Linked DNA regions of Homo sapiens. The protein of the gene in region 1 interacts with the protein of each later gene in a pairwise test. Each region holds a gene or a part of one and is shown in the gene's direction. Other genes may lie near its edges.

What was found. The genes of interacting proteins can lie anywhere in the genome.
Region 2: the proteins of GIT1 (region 1) and HMOX2 interact in a two-hybrid assay, tested with the Homo sapiens proteins (2 studies listed by BioGRID and IntAct).
Region 3: the proteins of GIT1 (region 1) and TRIB3 interact in a two-hybrid assay, tested with the Homo sapiens proteins (one large-scale study listed by BioGRID and IntAct).
Region 4: the proteins of GIT1 (region 1) and GRK2 interact in binary tests that used the Homo sapiens proteins (3 or more experiments, as listed by UniProt).

Annotation. Positions count from the first base shown.
Region 1 is NC_000017.11:29,583,149-29,586,648, reverse strand, and holds part of GIT1 (ARF GTPase-activating protein GIT1), read left to right. Parts: intron 1-3,032; coding exon 3,033-3,166; intron 3,167-3,500. UniProt on the Homo sapiens protein: GTPase-activating protein for ADP ribosylation factor family members, including ARF1.
Region 2 is NC_000016.10:4,507,398-4,510,847, forward strand, and holds the end of HMOX2 (heme oxygenase 2), read left to right. Parts: intron 1-315; coding exon 316-807; intron 808-2,014; coding exon 2,015-2,141; intron 2,142-2,231; coding exon 2,232-2,359; 3' UTR 2,360-2,950; downstream 2,951-3,450.
Region 3 is NC_000020.11:387,260-390,759, forward strand, and holds part of TRIB3 (tribbles homolog 3), read left to right. Parts: intron 1-751; coding exon 752-1,042; intron 1,043-3,500. UniProt on the Homo sapiens protein: Inactive protein kinase which acts as a regulator of the integrated stress response (ISR), a process for adaptation to various stress. Inhibits the transcriptional activity of DDIT3/CHOP and is involved in DDIT3/CHOP-dependent cell death during ER stress.
Region 4 is NC_000011.10:67,283,473-67,287,056, forward strand, and holds the end of GRK2 (beta-adrenergic receptor kinase 1), read left to right. Parts: intron 1-234; coding exon 235-301; intron 302-381; coding exon 382-477; intron 478-738; coding exon 739-901; intron 902-1,374; coding exon 1,375-1,511; intron 1,512-1,602; coding exon 1,603-1,716; intron 1,717-1,813; coding exon 1,814-1,978; 3' UTR 1,979-3,084; downstream 3,085-3,584. UniProt on the Homo sapiens protein: Specifically phosphorylates the agonist-occupied form of the beta-adrenergic and closely related receptors, probably inducing a desensitization of them. Key regulator of LPAR1 signaling.

The DNA of each region.
Region 1 (3,500 bases):
GCAAGGCCGGGGACATGTTACGGGACAAGCTACAGGCTGATTTGTCTCTTCATAGTGTAGATTGCAGAGTGGGACAAATGTTGGGCTCCTCTTCCTCCCTTATGGAGGTAGAATTTGTGTGTGTCAATGCCTGCACCTGAGTGTTCATCCTGATGGGCTTTTACATGTGTGTATACCCATGTAACTACTGCTCTGATCATGTTATAGAATAAGGGTATCCAATCTTTTTGCTTCCCTGGGCCACATTGGAAGAAGAATTTTCTTGGGCCACACCTAAAATACGCTAACACTAATGATAGCTGGTGAGCTAAATAAAACAAGCAAAAATAAAAATAAAAAATAAAGTCACAAAAAAGTCTCATAATGTTTTAAGAAAGTTTATGAATTTGTGTTGGGCCACATTCAAAGCTGCCTGGGCCGCATATGGACTGCAGGTTAGACAAGCATGTTATAGAACATTTCCATCACCTTAGGGGGCTTCCAAGTACCCCCTCCCAGTCCGTGCACCCCAGAGGTAACCACCATTCTGACTCTACCCCAAGGACTACTCTCGCCTGCCTTCATGATGTGGGCTTTTCCCTTAGTCTAGTGGAGATCTGGCCCTTAGCTCAGGGGAGGGAGGCCTGAGGCTAGCCTGTATGTGCAAACCTACTGGCCCTGGAGGCCACTGATGGCTTCAGGTGGTGGCAGGAATTCACCGTAGTAGAGGCCTCCATGGGGTTGGCACTGGTTAACGTGATCCCAGGATCACGCCTGCTACCTCTCCACACATACAGACCCATACCCTGCCGGTGGAGCCAGAAGCGCAGGGGGAGGGCTGACGAGTTCCCTTACAGTTCCTGTCCTTTCCGTCCCAGGTTTGGTCCAAGGAGCTTCTTGACGCAAGGATCCCTTCACCTTAAACTACAATCTGGGTAGTCCCAAGGGCACTTGCACAGAGGGAGGAGACAGAATGGTTAGGGTGGGCGTCCCATCTGTGTCATCCAGAAATGAGCTGACACCAATAGCGGCTGCCCAGACCAGGACAGTGTCCTTTGCCTACCATTCTTCTCAGGTCACCTGGAGGAGAAGGAGAACCCCTCCCCCAGGCTGGGGGAAAGTGCCAGGCAAACCCTTGGACCACACTCCTGCATCCTGGTCTTGGTTACTGCCATAGCCAGGGTCACTCACCACATCTGGTCTGCCCATGGCTTAGGGCTCTGGAGCCATTGGCCGTGGATATATAGTCAGCCTTCCATGCCTGGCTTCTCCGGTAGGACCACAGACCTCAGATCAGCCCATTTATGATCCTGCCCTGGGCGGCTCCCCACTTACAGGAAACCCCACCAAGAGGAATTTGGGCTGCATCATTTCCGGCTTCCTGCCTGGGCTGCTGGAGGTGGCTGGCTGGCAGCCCCCTGACCCAGTGGTGTTTGGAGTGGGGAGAGGGAGGTCTCCACACCTGGGGTGCCTCACTATTTGGGTAAAGCCAGCCCAGAAGTGCATGCTAGGGCTCCCCCTCTTGGCGAAGAAGGCTGGTCCCTTCCTCCTGAGCCCTGGAGTCAGCCCCCCAGGAAGGTGTTGGCGGTCACCTTGGGCATCCCTCTGTTGCCCTGATTGGGAGGGGGTCCCTTAAAAAGCCTAAACCCGCTGCACTCCAGCCTGGGCGACAGAGCGGGACTCCGTCTCAAAAAAAAAAAAAAAAAAAAAGCCTAAACCCAAAGACAGGCCTCTCTCCTTTACTTCCTGTTTTCATGCCTCAGTGGGGGTCACTTGCTGTGGGCAGAGCTCAGGCTGGGCCCCTGACTCAGAGTCTCCTCAATTTTCCTGGGAACTTTGGTGGAAGTCCTTAGAGGGGAAAGGCCTGAGAATTGCCTTCTAGTTGGGAGAGATTCTTATCCCCCTAAGCCTGTCCCTCCCCTGATGGGGATACTTCTGAACACCCTGAGCGCTACAGGGCAAGGCAGAGAGCCAGTCCCCCACCCCCACCCCAGGACAGGGTTTCCTGAGACAGGGTGGGGGCCGCTGGGCAGAGCAAAGTGTCCTGGGAGAGAGGCGCCCTGCCCCCACTCTCAGGCGGCACACAATGGCTGCTTTCTCCCCCGTGACCTTTCCGCAGCCTGAGTCGTATGCAGCTGTCTCCCAAGGGGCCTAGGATGGGTGGCATCTCCTCCACCCTTGAGAAGAACCCCGGAACTCCCACCCAGTCCTGGCCCTGCTTCTTCTCCCAAGTTCACTTTTCCCAAAAGAGTGGAGAGCAGGCTATAGAGGCAGAGGGACAGCAGCAAGTGTGGACATGGCATGGTCTCAGGCATGAAAGTGCCACATCCTGGCAATTCTACTCATTAGCCTCGCATCCTTGAATAAGCCCTTTAACCTCTCTGAGCCACTGTTTCTTCATCACAGAGGTAGCATGTCCTACCTTGCCTGACAGTTGCAAGCAGCATCACACATAATGTACCCAGCTGGTACCTAGTGGGTGCCCAGTCAAGCCCAGCTCCTTTGCTCTGTCCATCTTCCTTAAGAGGGCTCCAGCTTACACCCTCAGTGATGATGGCAGGAGGCTCCAGCATGAAAGGACCTCACCTGCTGGCAGGAGGCCAGAGGCAGGACCTGTGGACGGGTGTGATCTGTCAGGCATGTTTCAACAGCATCTGGCATGCAGCAGCATCTGGGTTGCATCCCCTTGGGGATCCCTTCCTCCCTTCGGGACGGGCTGGGGCAGAGACCTCGTTTCCTGGGAAAAGGCTGAGAGACTGGTAGCAGTGGCTGCAGGGCAGGAAACTGTGCCTGCTGAATGGGCCCTGGGGACTGCATATCCCAGAGGGGTAAGGATGTAGGAAAGGGCATGGCTCTGTCAGCCCCCAGCTGTGAGCTCTTGGGGAGATCCCTCACTGGTAACCTGGCCGTAGTGATGGTCCCAGCTCCTAGGCTGTTGGAGACTGAGTGAGTGAATGTGTGGAGAGTACTAGGCTTGGCACGGGCCAGAGCAGGTGCTCAGGAGGTCTGGCCCATCATCTGGCTCCGGCTGACCCTTGCCCTCACCCTGGCAGACCCTGGCTGGGCATCCATCAGCAGGGGTGTGCTGGTGTGTGACGAGTGCTGCAGCGTGCACCGGAGCCTGGGACGCCACATCTCCATTGTCAAGCACCTTCGCCACAGCGCCTGGCCTCCCACGCTGCTGCAGGTACAGGGCTCAGTCGGGTGGTTCTTCCTTCCCCTCAGGCAGAGTGTGCTGAGCATGAGGGCGTTTCCCCCTCACCCACATACACCCCCATCTGGAATCTGCAGCTTCCAAGGGGCAGCACCCCCCTAGGGCAGAGGCTAATCCTGACCCTTTCCTCCCATCTACTCACTTCATGCAGAAGAGTAGCTCACACCCCTGCTCTGCCACTTATCAACGTGGTCGTGTAGCATTGAGCAAGTTGCTTCACCTCTCTGAGCCTTGGCACACTCATGGGATCTGTGTCTTTGGGCAGCTGGACTAGATGGAGGTGTGGTGGTGCGGGCACACAGTAGGC
Region 2 (3,450 bases), on another chromosome or scaffold:
TCGTCCCACTGTACTCCAGCCTGGGTGACAGAGCGAGACTCTTTACCCCGCCAAAAAAAAAAAAAATTGGTTCTCATGGCTTAGATAGAATAACATAGTGGTGTGAAGGAAGCAAAAGTATGCGTGTTCCAAAGACTTCACCATGCCATTCCTTTAAGAAACAAAAGCTTCCTTGTGTGTTAAATAATTCACTACATAAAAATGGACCATAGGATTGGGTCTTTGGGGTTGGGGGTTGTCACTTGAGCCTCTGCATCCAGCTGCTCGGATGTGGTGTGCTCAGGCATAGCTGGCCTCCTCCTGTCACCTCCACAGCTGGCCACCACGGCACTTTACTTCACATACTCAGCCCTCGAGGAGGAAATGGAGCGCAACAAGGACCATCCAGCCTTTGCCCCTTTGTACTTCCCCATGGAGCTGCACCGGAAGGAGGCGCTGACCAAGGACATGGAGTATTTCTTTGGTGAAAACTGGGAGGAGCAGGTGCAGTGCCCCAAGGCTGCCCAGAAGTACGTGGAGCGGATCCACTACATAGGGCAGAACGAGCCGGAGCTACTGGTGGCCCATGCATACACCCGCTACATGGGGGATCTCTCGGGGGGCCAGGTGCTGAAGAAGGTGGCCCAGCGAGCACTGAAACTCCCCAGCACAGGGGAAGGGACCCAGTTCTACCTGTTTGAGAATGTGGACAATGCCCAGCAGTTCAAGCAGCTCTACCGGGCCAGGATGAACGCCCTGGACCTGAACATGAAGACCAAAGAGAGGATCGTGGAGGAGGCCAACAAGGCTTTTGAGTATAACATGCAGGTACTATTGGGGGCTGCCAGCTGCTAGGGCTGAAGAGGGAAACTTTGACAGTGGTAGCAGATCCATAGTGGCCCATGAAGGCACACATGGCATTAGGACAGATGAGCTGCAGGGTGCCGAGAGGAAGGTGGCCACCAGATTGGCCACCAGAGCTTGTGGGCCCAGTGGGTGGTTCCCAGCATGGAGGCCTGGTGTGATAGATGCCAGTGGGTAGTGTTTTGGGAAGGGTGAGTCCTCTCGCACATAGAGGGGTCTGGAAGAATGGAGCTGGCTTCCTCCCTCATTGCAGGATGCTGGTCTTGAAGAATGGTTAATTTTCTTTTCAAGTTTTGCTCTGAGAAGCCCTGCTTTATAAGTTAATAGAGAGCCAGTGCCACCAAGGAGAGTAAATAAGCTCTGTTTACAAGTAGCCTTTAGATGAGGCTGAACCTGGGGAAGCTTACTCTGTCCCCAGGTCCTGTCAGCTTCCACTGAGGCCTCCCAGGGCACTCAGGATGAGTATGCCCTGCCACAGTCTCATTCTCCCATGTTCCAGGTTTTCTGTTGCTTCTTGATAAAAAAATAACCAGCACCTAGAAATGGGGATGTACTCATGCCCTCCTGTCTGTGCTGTGGTAGTTTCAGTGGCTTGAGCCACCTCAGAGAAGGCTACATCTCTGGTCAGTTCCCAGGGGAGACCCAGCATTTGGCAGCCTTCTTGGGGTACCAATATCCACACCTCCCCAGAGCTCTTGCTAGGGAGGGAAGACCATCAGGCAGTGCAGCTGCCGCCCACCAGTGCTGCTTGCTGTGTAGTTGGCACACCTGAGCAAGCTCACCTGCTCCAGCTCACTCTCTCTGGAGGGCGTCCTCTAAAAGGAGAGTGTAGCCAGGCGCAGTAGCTCATGCCTGTAATCCCAGCACTTTGGGAGGCTGAGGCAGGGGCATTACTTGACCCCAGGAGTTGAAGACCAGCCTGGGCAACCAAGGTGAGACACCATCTCCCCACAAAATTTAAAAATTAGCCAGGTATGGTGGTACACACACGTAGGAGGATAAGGTGGGAGGACCACTTGAGCCTAGGAGTTTGAGGCTGCAGTGAGTTAGCCATGTTCATAACACTGCACTCTAGCCTGGGCAACAGAGACCTCATCTCAAAAGACATTTAAAAAAAAAAAAAAAGTATGGGCAGCCCAAAGATGGCTCAGTCGATCCTCTGCTCCTGCAGATATTCAATGAACTGGACCAGGCCGGCTCCACACTGGCCAGAGAGACCTTGGAGGATGGGTTCCCTGTACACGATGGGAAAGGAGACATGCGTAAATGCCCTTTCTACGCTGCTGAACAAGACAAAGGTAGGTCTGTGTGTCCTGAGCTCCCCTCCTGGGGCAGGTGTAGCAGGAGACTCCACTGATGCCATGTCTCCTATTGGTGCTGCCACACAGGTGCCCTGGAGGGCAGCAGCTGTCCCTTCCGAACAGCTATGGCTGTGCTGAGGAAGCCCAGCCTCCAGTTCATCCTGGCCGCTGGTGTGGCCCTAGCTGCTGGACTCTTGGCCTGGTACTACATGTGAAGCACCCATCATGCCACACCGGTACCCTCCTCCCGACTGACCACTGGCCTACCCCTTTCTCCAGCCCTGACTAAACTACCACCTCAGGTGACTTTTTAAAAAATGCTGGGTTTAAGAAAGGCAACCAATAAAAGCCAGATGCTAGAGCCTCTGCCTGACAGCATCCTCTCTATGGGCCATATTCCGCACTGGGCACAGGCCGTCACCCTGGGAGCAGTCGGCACAGTGCAGCAAGCCTGGCCCCCGACCCAGCTCTACTCCAGGCTTCCACACTTCTGGGCCCTAGGCTGCTTCCGGTAGTCCCTGTTTTTGCAGTACATGGGTGACTATCTCCCCTGTTGGAGGTGAGTGGCCTGTAAGTCCAAGCTGTGCGAGGGGGCCTTGCTGGATGCTGCTGTACAACTTCTGGGCCTCTCTTGGACCCTGGGAGTGAGGGTGGGTGTGGGTGGAAGCCTCAGAGGCCTTGGGAGCTCATCCCTCTCACCCAGAATCCCTCTAACCCCTTGGGTGCGGTTTGCTCAGCCCCAGCTTATCTCCTCCTCCGCGCTGTGTAAATGCTCCAGCACTCAATAAAGTGGGCTTTGCAAGCTACCTCCTTCCCTGCCTCCTGGCACCGGGTGGGTCAAGCCACCTCCCCATAGGAGAGTCCCTCAGAAGCAAGGGCATGTTATGTCTGTGTGGGGAGTGGACATCGTCCATCATGGCTCCCAGCAGCCACCTCCTGCTCTGGGTCTACTCTCCAGCACCTCTAGTCTCCAAAGCAAAGTCACTCTAACCGTCTTGCAAAGATCTTTAAAGTGTATCCAGCACTGCTATTTTTTAGCTCAGAAATACCTTAGAGGTTTCCTACTTAAAAGGTTTTTTTAAAATATATATATATATTTAAAAATAAGGGTTTTAAAAAAGCACATATTTGTATTTAAACAATTCATTCTCTAAAAGAGAAACATGAACTTAAATAATTTTATTAATAGGAATCTACTACCTGTAAAAGTTTTATTTCAAAAAGGGTTAAAAAGTAGGGAAACTCTTTAAACTACTGACCAAGACTGCCACCTTCATAATTCAGATGAGTTAGTGCAGAGATGGCC
Region 3 (3,500 bases), on another chromosome or scaffold:
AGCTACTTGGGAGGCTGAGGTGGAAGAATCACCTGAACCCTGAGGTCGAGGCTGCAAGTGAACTGTAATAGTAAGAGTCTCCTCCTAATCTTGTGCATCCTTTCAGAGAGAGAGATGATAGATATTCAAACAAATACATACATATATATAACATATTTATATATATTCTTTTTAACATAAAAGTATAGCCAGGTGTGGTGGTTCACTACTAGAGTCCCAGCTACTTAGGAAGCTGAGGTGGGAGGTTCACTTGAGGCCACGAGTTTGAGACCAGCGTGGGCAACATCTCTTGGGGAAAAAAAAAAAAAAACCCACCATAAAAGCATTCTATAACACGTAATTCTGTGTTTGTCTTTCTTCTCTTAATACATCTTGGAGATCAGTACGCATCAGTATATAGAGAGCTTCCTTGTCCTTTTTCAGGGCTGTGTAGTATTCTGCTGTATGGCTATACCATGATGTTTTCACTAGCTTTCTACTGCCTGACATTTGGGATATTTCCTGCTTTTGCTATTGGACACAAGGCTCTGATGAACAGCCTTTACTATATTTAATTTTTTTGTGAGAAGTTTAACTGGAAGATAAATTCCCAGAAGTGGGGCACCCAGTTAAGGATATGTGACTTTGTCATTTTAACACACACTGCCAGATCACCCCCTATAAATGTTGTGCCACGTATCCTCCCACCAGCAGGGGAAAGGAGGGGCCACCAAGCAGTCTCACTTTAGTGCTTTTCTCTCCTTTTTACCAGATGCGAGCCACCCCTCTGGCTGCTCCTGCGGGTTCCCTGTCCAGGAAGAAGCGGTTGGAGTTGGATGACAACTTAGATACCGAGCGTCCCGTCCAGAAACGAGCTCGAAGTGGGCCCCAGCCCAGACTGCCCCCCTGCCTGTTGCCCCTGAGCCCACCTACTGCTCCAGATCGTGCAACTGCTGTGGCCACTGCCTCCCGTCTTGGGCCCTATGTCCTCCTGGAGCCCGAGGAGGGCGGGCGGGCCTACCAGGCCCTGCACTGCCCTACAGGCACTGAGTATACCTGCAAGGTACGTGCCCATGGGCGGCTGTCCCCCAGCACCACAGGAGGCCTGGGAAGGAGGCCTCCAAAGGATTGCCAGGGTGCAGAGGGGTCCTTATGTTCATTCATTCTTGTGTTTGTTTAGTGGGGAAGCATCCAGGGAGCCCCTGCTGGACTGATACTAGAGAGGTAAACCAGAGGTCGTCCCAGTCCTGGGGGAGTTCACAGCTTAGGCCCTACAGTGTGATAAATGCTGCAGGGGTAGAACTTAGGGATCATGGGCGCAGAAAAGGCCGAGCAGAAGTTAGCCAGGTAGAAGTGGGAGATGGGAGTTGCAGGCAGGGGGAACAGCTGTTCAAAGGCCTAGAAAAGTGAGGGGATAGCACTTTAGAGAATGAAAAGGACTTCTCTGTGGCCAGAGTGGAGAGGATGTGCAGAAAGGGGCAGGAGATGAAGGTTGGCAGCAGCTGGTCATGAAGGTGTTAACAAGGGGCCTCCACTGGGCTGTGCGGAGCTACTGAAGATGTTTGCACAAGAGAAGGGTAGGGCATGGTAGACATCAAAACTCCTGGGACCTCGGAGGTGATCGAGCCTAACCTGGGGCCATTTTACAGATAGGAAGACTGAGATGAAGACAGGAGAAGGGCCATGCGTGAAGTCACATAGCACTGGGCCTGGCTCCTGGGGTAAACTAAGGGGTAGAAAAGTCTGAGGATTCCTGGCAGAAACCAGGAAATGGACAGGGTCAAGGCCCCTGAGGGTCAGCCCATGCAGGACACTGACAAGTGACAGTCCAAGAAGACAGAGATGAGAATAAAAAGTGTAACAATAGGTATTCACTGTGCACCAGGTACTATGATGATTGCTTAGTGTGCACAATCTCTTTTAATCTTGACACAACCAATGAGGTGGTTTCTATCATTGTGCCCCTTTTATAGATAGAGGACACTGAGACTCAGAAAGCCATGGTTACTTGCCACATGACAGAGCCAGGTGGTATCAGAGCTGGGATTGGGCCCAGGAGGCTGAGCCCAGAGAGTCCTGTGCCCGTGCTAGGATAAGCGTTTCACACAATCAGGGCAGGCTGCCCTGGCAGGCAAGCATAAGGAAGATAAGGGGGACCTGGAAACCCAAGGGAGAGTAGCGGGGGCCTGGGTCCCTTGGGAATGCACAGAGAAGCAGAAGGACTTAAGCCTCCTCCTGGGGCAGCAGCAGAGCTTTGCTCTGTTGACGGAGATGCAGTGAACAGCGGGGCAGATCCAGACAGGGTCCAGCCCCTAGCTTCACCTGGCCTCTTGTGCACAGATCTCCAGCGCCCTTACCAGGTGCCCTAAGGAGCCCAGAACTCTGGGTCCCCTTCCTGCAGCATCACAGGCTCTTTTCCACTCCCGCTGGGGAGGTGAGTCCATGATAAGAGGAATAACCCAAGCAGGCTCAGGAGAGAAGCGCCATGCGTTCACAGGGCCCTGATTCTCAAGAAACATTTGGGAAAATCCACTGGAACATACTCACCCCTATGCCAATGTGCACCATGGGTGCTGAATGGTCATTTCCACACTTCCTCAGCTTTTCTGGTCAGTGTGTAGAAAGATCAAAATCTTGTCTTTGTAAATGATCAACTTATTCATTAATTCAACACAACTTCATTGAGCACCCGTATTTGCCATGTACCATGCTGTGGTTAAAAAACAAAGTTCTGTTCTCATCAAGCTGACGTTCTAGTGGGAGATACAGACACTAAACAAGCGAATAAGTAAAATACGTGTCAGGTGGCCGGGCGCGGTGGCTCACACCTGTAATCCCAGCACTTTGGGAGGCCGAGGTAGGCAGATCACCTGAAGTCAGGAGTTCGAGACTATCCTGGCCAACATGGTGAAACCTTGTTTCTATTAAAAATACAAAAAATTAGCCGGGCATGGTGGCAGGGGCCTGTAATCCCAGCTACTCGAGAGGCTGAGGCAGGAGAATCTCTTGAACCTGGGAGGTGGAGGTTGCAGTGAGCCGAGATCACACCACTGCACTCCAGCCTGGGCAACAAGAGCAAAACTCCGTCTCAAAAAAACAAAAAACAAACAGGAAAACCCTTATTCCAGCATCTTTCTTGGTTCCTTTGCAATGCTTATCAGCATTTGTCAATATTTGGTTTCTGGGCATGTTTGCATGGCCTCCCAGTGGGCACCGGAGAGCAGAGCCCATGGCTGTCAGTCTAGCTGGACATGTGGCTGGCCCGTGCAGGCCCAGGGCCAGCATACTGAATGAATGAAAGCGTGGGTGGGCAAAGAGGACGGGAGCTGTGACGGTGATGAGCATCAGGTGCCTTCTGCATCATCCGCCCTTCCGGATTCCTCCTGCTTTGTGGGTTATTTTTCTGTTTGGGTGACCTGTTACTTTTCAGTTATCCGATGTTTGAGGCCATATAGCGTAGCAGTTAAGAGCACAGACAAAAGGCCGGGTGCAGTGGCTCACACCTGTAATCCCAGCCCTTT
Region 4 (3,584 bases), on another chromosome or scaffold:
TTTTATGTTTATCAAACATTTATTAAGCACTGGGCATAGGGTTGCAAAATTTACCAGTGTTAAAACCCACAACCCTACGATGTAGGAACTTCTGTTCTCCCATTTGAGAGATGAGGAAACAGCTCAGGCTTAAGGAACTTGCCCAAGTTCACAGAGCCAGAAAGTGGCTCAATCAGGAGTTAAGCCCGGGACTCAGGGTGGGGCTGAGCCCAGATGACTGGCCTCTCCCCACAGGGCTCAGGAGGTGAAAGAGAGCCCCTTTTTCCGCTCCCTGGACTGGCAGATGGTCTTCTTGCAGAAGGTAACAGTCTGCGGCAGGGACTGGGGGTGCTCTGCAGCCCCACCCCCGAGCTAATGCCCATGACCCCTGTTCTGCTGCAGTACCCTCCCCCGCTGATCCCCCCACGAGGGGAGGTGAACGCGGCCGACGCCTTCGACATTGGCTCCTTCGATGAGGAGGACACAAAAGGAATCAAGGTACTGGGCCTTGCCTGGCCTCTTGTACCTAGGCTGTGATCCTGGCCTGGGGAAGGATCCCTCTCCCTTCTTATCACCTGTGAGACCCTGTGCCAGCCCTGCCAGCTTGTAGGCCTCAGTTCCTCCTTGGCCAACTTCCCTGGGGGGTGGCAGTTGCACTGACCATCCCTACCCAGGGCCCTGGGTCTGGGCAGCCTGTGGCTGATGGTATTCCGGCATCTCTGTCCACCCATGTGCCCCTGCCCCATCCACCTGGTAAAGTTACTGGACAGTGATCAGGAGCTCTACCGCAACTTCCCCCTCACCATCTCGGAGCGGTGGCAGCAGGAGGTGGCAGAGACTGTCTTCGACACCATCAACGCTGAGACAGACCGGCTGGAGGCTCGCAAGAAAGCCAAGAACAAGCAGCTGGGCCATGAGGAAGGTGAGGGTCGCCGGCTGCTGCGGCACCAGGCCCCTGCCTGCTTAGAAGTGAGCAGCTGGCTCGGGTTTAAGGAACTCACCCTGGATCACAGCCAGAAAGTGGCGGCTCTGGGATTCAAACTCAGGCTGGGGCCGGGCATGGTGGCTCACGCCTGTAATCCCAGCACTTTGGGAGGCCAAGGAGCGCAGATCACTTGAGGTCAGGAGTTTGAGACCAGCCTGGCCAACATGGTGAAACCCTGTCTCTACCAAAAAATACCAAAAAAATTAGCCGGGCATGGTGGCACGCGCCTGTACTCCCAGCTACCCGGGAGGCTGAGGCGGGAGGATCGTTTGAACCTGGGAGGTGGAGGTTGCAGTGAGCCAAGATTGTGCCACAGCCCTCCAGCCTGGGCAACAGAGTGGAGACCCTGTCTCAAAACAAAAAAGAAACCCAGGTGGGGCCGGCTGAGTCTCCTCTGTCTCTCGCCTCAGACTACGCCCTGGGCAAGGACTGCATCATGCATGGCTACATGTCCAAGATGGGCAACCCCTTCCTGACCCAGTGGCAGCGGCGGTACTTCTACCTGTTCCCCAACCGCCTCGAGTGGCGGGGCGAGGGCGAGGCCCCGGTAAGGAGCCCGTGCGGGGGTCCGGGAGCCGGGCTTCCGGGTGGCTGGCCGGCCCGGCTCTTACCTGCACCACCCATCCCTGGCCCTGCAGCAGAGCCTGCTGACCATGGAGGAGATCCAGTCGGTGGAGGAGACGCAGATCAAGGAGCGCAAGTGCCTGCTCCTCAAGATCCGCGGTGGGAAACAGTTCATTTTGCAGTGCGATGTGAGTGGGGGCTGAGCCAGGGATGGGAGGGCCGAGGGGCCAGGCCAGGCAGGCTGGGGAGAGCCCCAGCTGACAGAGCTGGGCTTGGCATGTGCAGAGCGACCCTGAGCTGGTGCAGTGGAAGAAGGAGCTGCGCGACGCCTACCGCGAGGCCCAGCAGCTGGTGCAGCGGGTGCCCAAGATGAAGAACAAGCCGCGCTCGCCCGTGGTGGAGCTGAGCAAGGTGCCGCTGGTCCAGCGCGGCAGTGCCAACGGCCTCTGACCCGCCCACCCGCCTTTTATAAACCTCTAATTTATTTTGTCGAATTTTTATTATTTGTTTTCCCGCCAAGCGGAAAAGGTTTTATTTTGTAATTATTGTGATTTCCCGTGGCCCCAGCCTGGCCCAGCTCCCCCGGGAGGGGCCCGCTTGCCTCGGCTCCTGCTGCACCAACCCAGCCGCTGCCCGGCGCCCTCTGTCCTGACTTCAGGGGCTGCCCGCTCCCAGTGTCTTCCTGTGGGGGAAGAGCACAGCCCTCCCGCCCCTTCCCCGAGGGATGATGCCACACCAAGCTGTGCCACCCTGGGCTCTGTGGGCTGCACTCTGTGCCCATGGGCACTGCTGGGTGGCCCATCCCCCCTCACCAGGGGCAGGCACAGCACAGGGATCCGACTTGAATTTTCCCACTGCACCCCCTCCTGCTGCAGAGGGGCAGGCCCTGCACTGTCCTGCTCCACAGTGTTGGCGAGAGGAGGGGCCCGTTGTCTCCCTGGCCCTCAAGGCCTCCCACAGTGACTCGGGCTCCTGTGCCCTTATTCAGGAAAAGCCTCTGTGTCACTGGCTGCCTCCACTCCCACTTCCCTGACACTGCGGGGCTTGGCTGAGAGAGTGGCATTGGCAGCAGGTGCTGCTACCCTCCCTGCTGTCCCCTCTTGCCCCAACCCCCAGCACCCGGGCTCAGGGACCACAGCAAGGCACCTGCAGGTTGGGCCATACTGGCCTCGCCTGGCCTGAGGTCTCGCTGATGCTGGGCTGGGTGCGACCCCATCTGCCCAGGACGGGGCCGGCCAGGTGGGCGGGCAGCACAGCAAGGAGGCTGGCTGGGGCCTATCAGTGTGCCCCCCATCCTGGCCCATCAGTGTACCCCCGCCCAGGCTGGCCAGCCCCACAGCCCACGTCCTGTCAGTGCCGCCGCCTCGCCCACCGCATGCCCCCTCGTGCCAGTCGCGCTGCCTGTGTGGTGTCGCGCCTTCTCCCCCCCGGGGCTGGGTTGGCGCACCCTCCCCTCCCGTCTACTCATTCCCCGGGGCGTTTCTTTGCCGATTTTTGAATGTGATTTTAAAGAGTGAAAAATGAGACTATGCGTTTTTATAAAAAATGGTGCCTGATTCGGCTGTCTCAGACTCTTTTTGTACCTGGTGACCCCTTTTCAGCTTCTGCTGGGCTGGGGCCTGATGGGGAGGGTCTCGGTGGTACCAGGTCTCCTCCACCGCCATGGCTTCCAAGGTGGTCTGCTCGGGCCCAGGCCATCTTCCAGGTGGGGTGAGGCAGTGGGTCCCACTTCCCCTCCTACCCCTCCCAGCTGACAGTCCTCTCCACCTAGTGGCTGTCCAGTGCCCATTCCTCACCTTTTCCCGGGGAGGAGAGAGCAGCTTCTGCCACTTCCCAGGTAAGCAGGAGGAGGTGCCAACAGTGTTAGGCCTGGCACAGTGTCTGGGCTGACTGGGACCGTCTCAGGCCCACAGAACACCCCTGCACAGCAGGCACCAAGCTGAGGCCCCTCCCCAGAAACAGTCACAAGGCACCTCTTCCCTCTAGGTCACACCGCAGCCTCTGGGCCCTTGGCCATCTCTGGCTTCAGCCTCCTCTCTGGCCTCACTGCACAGCC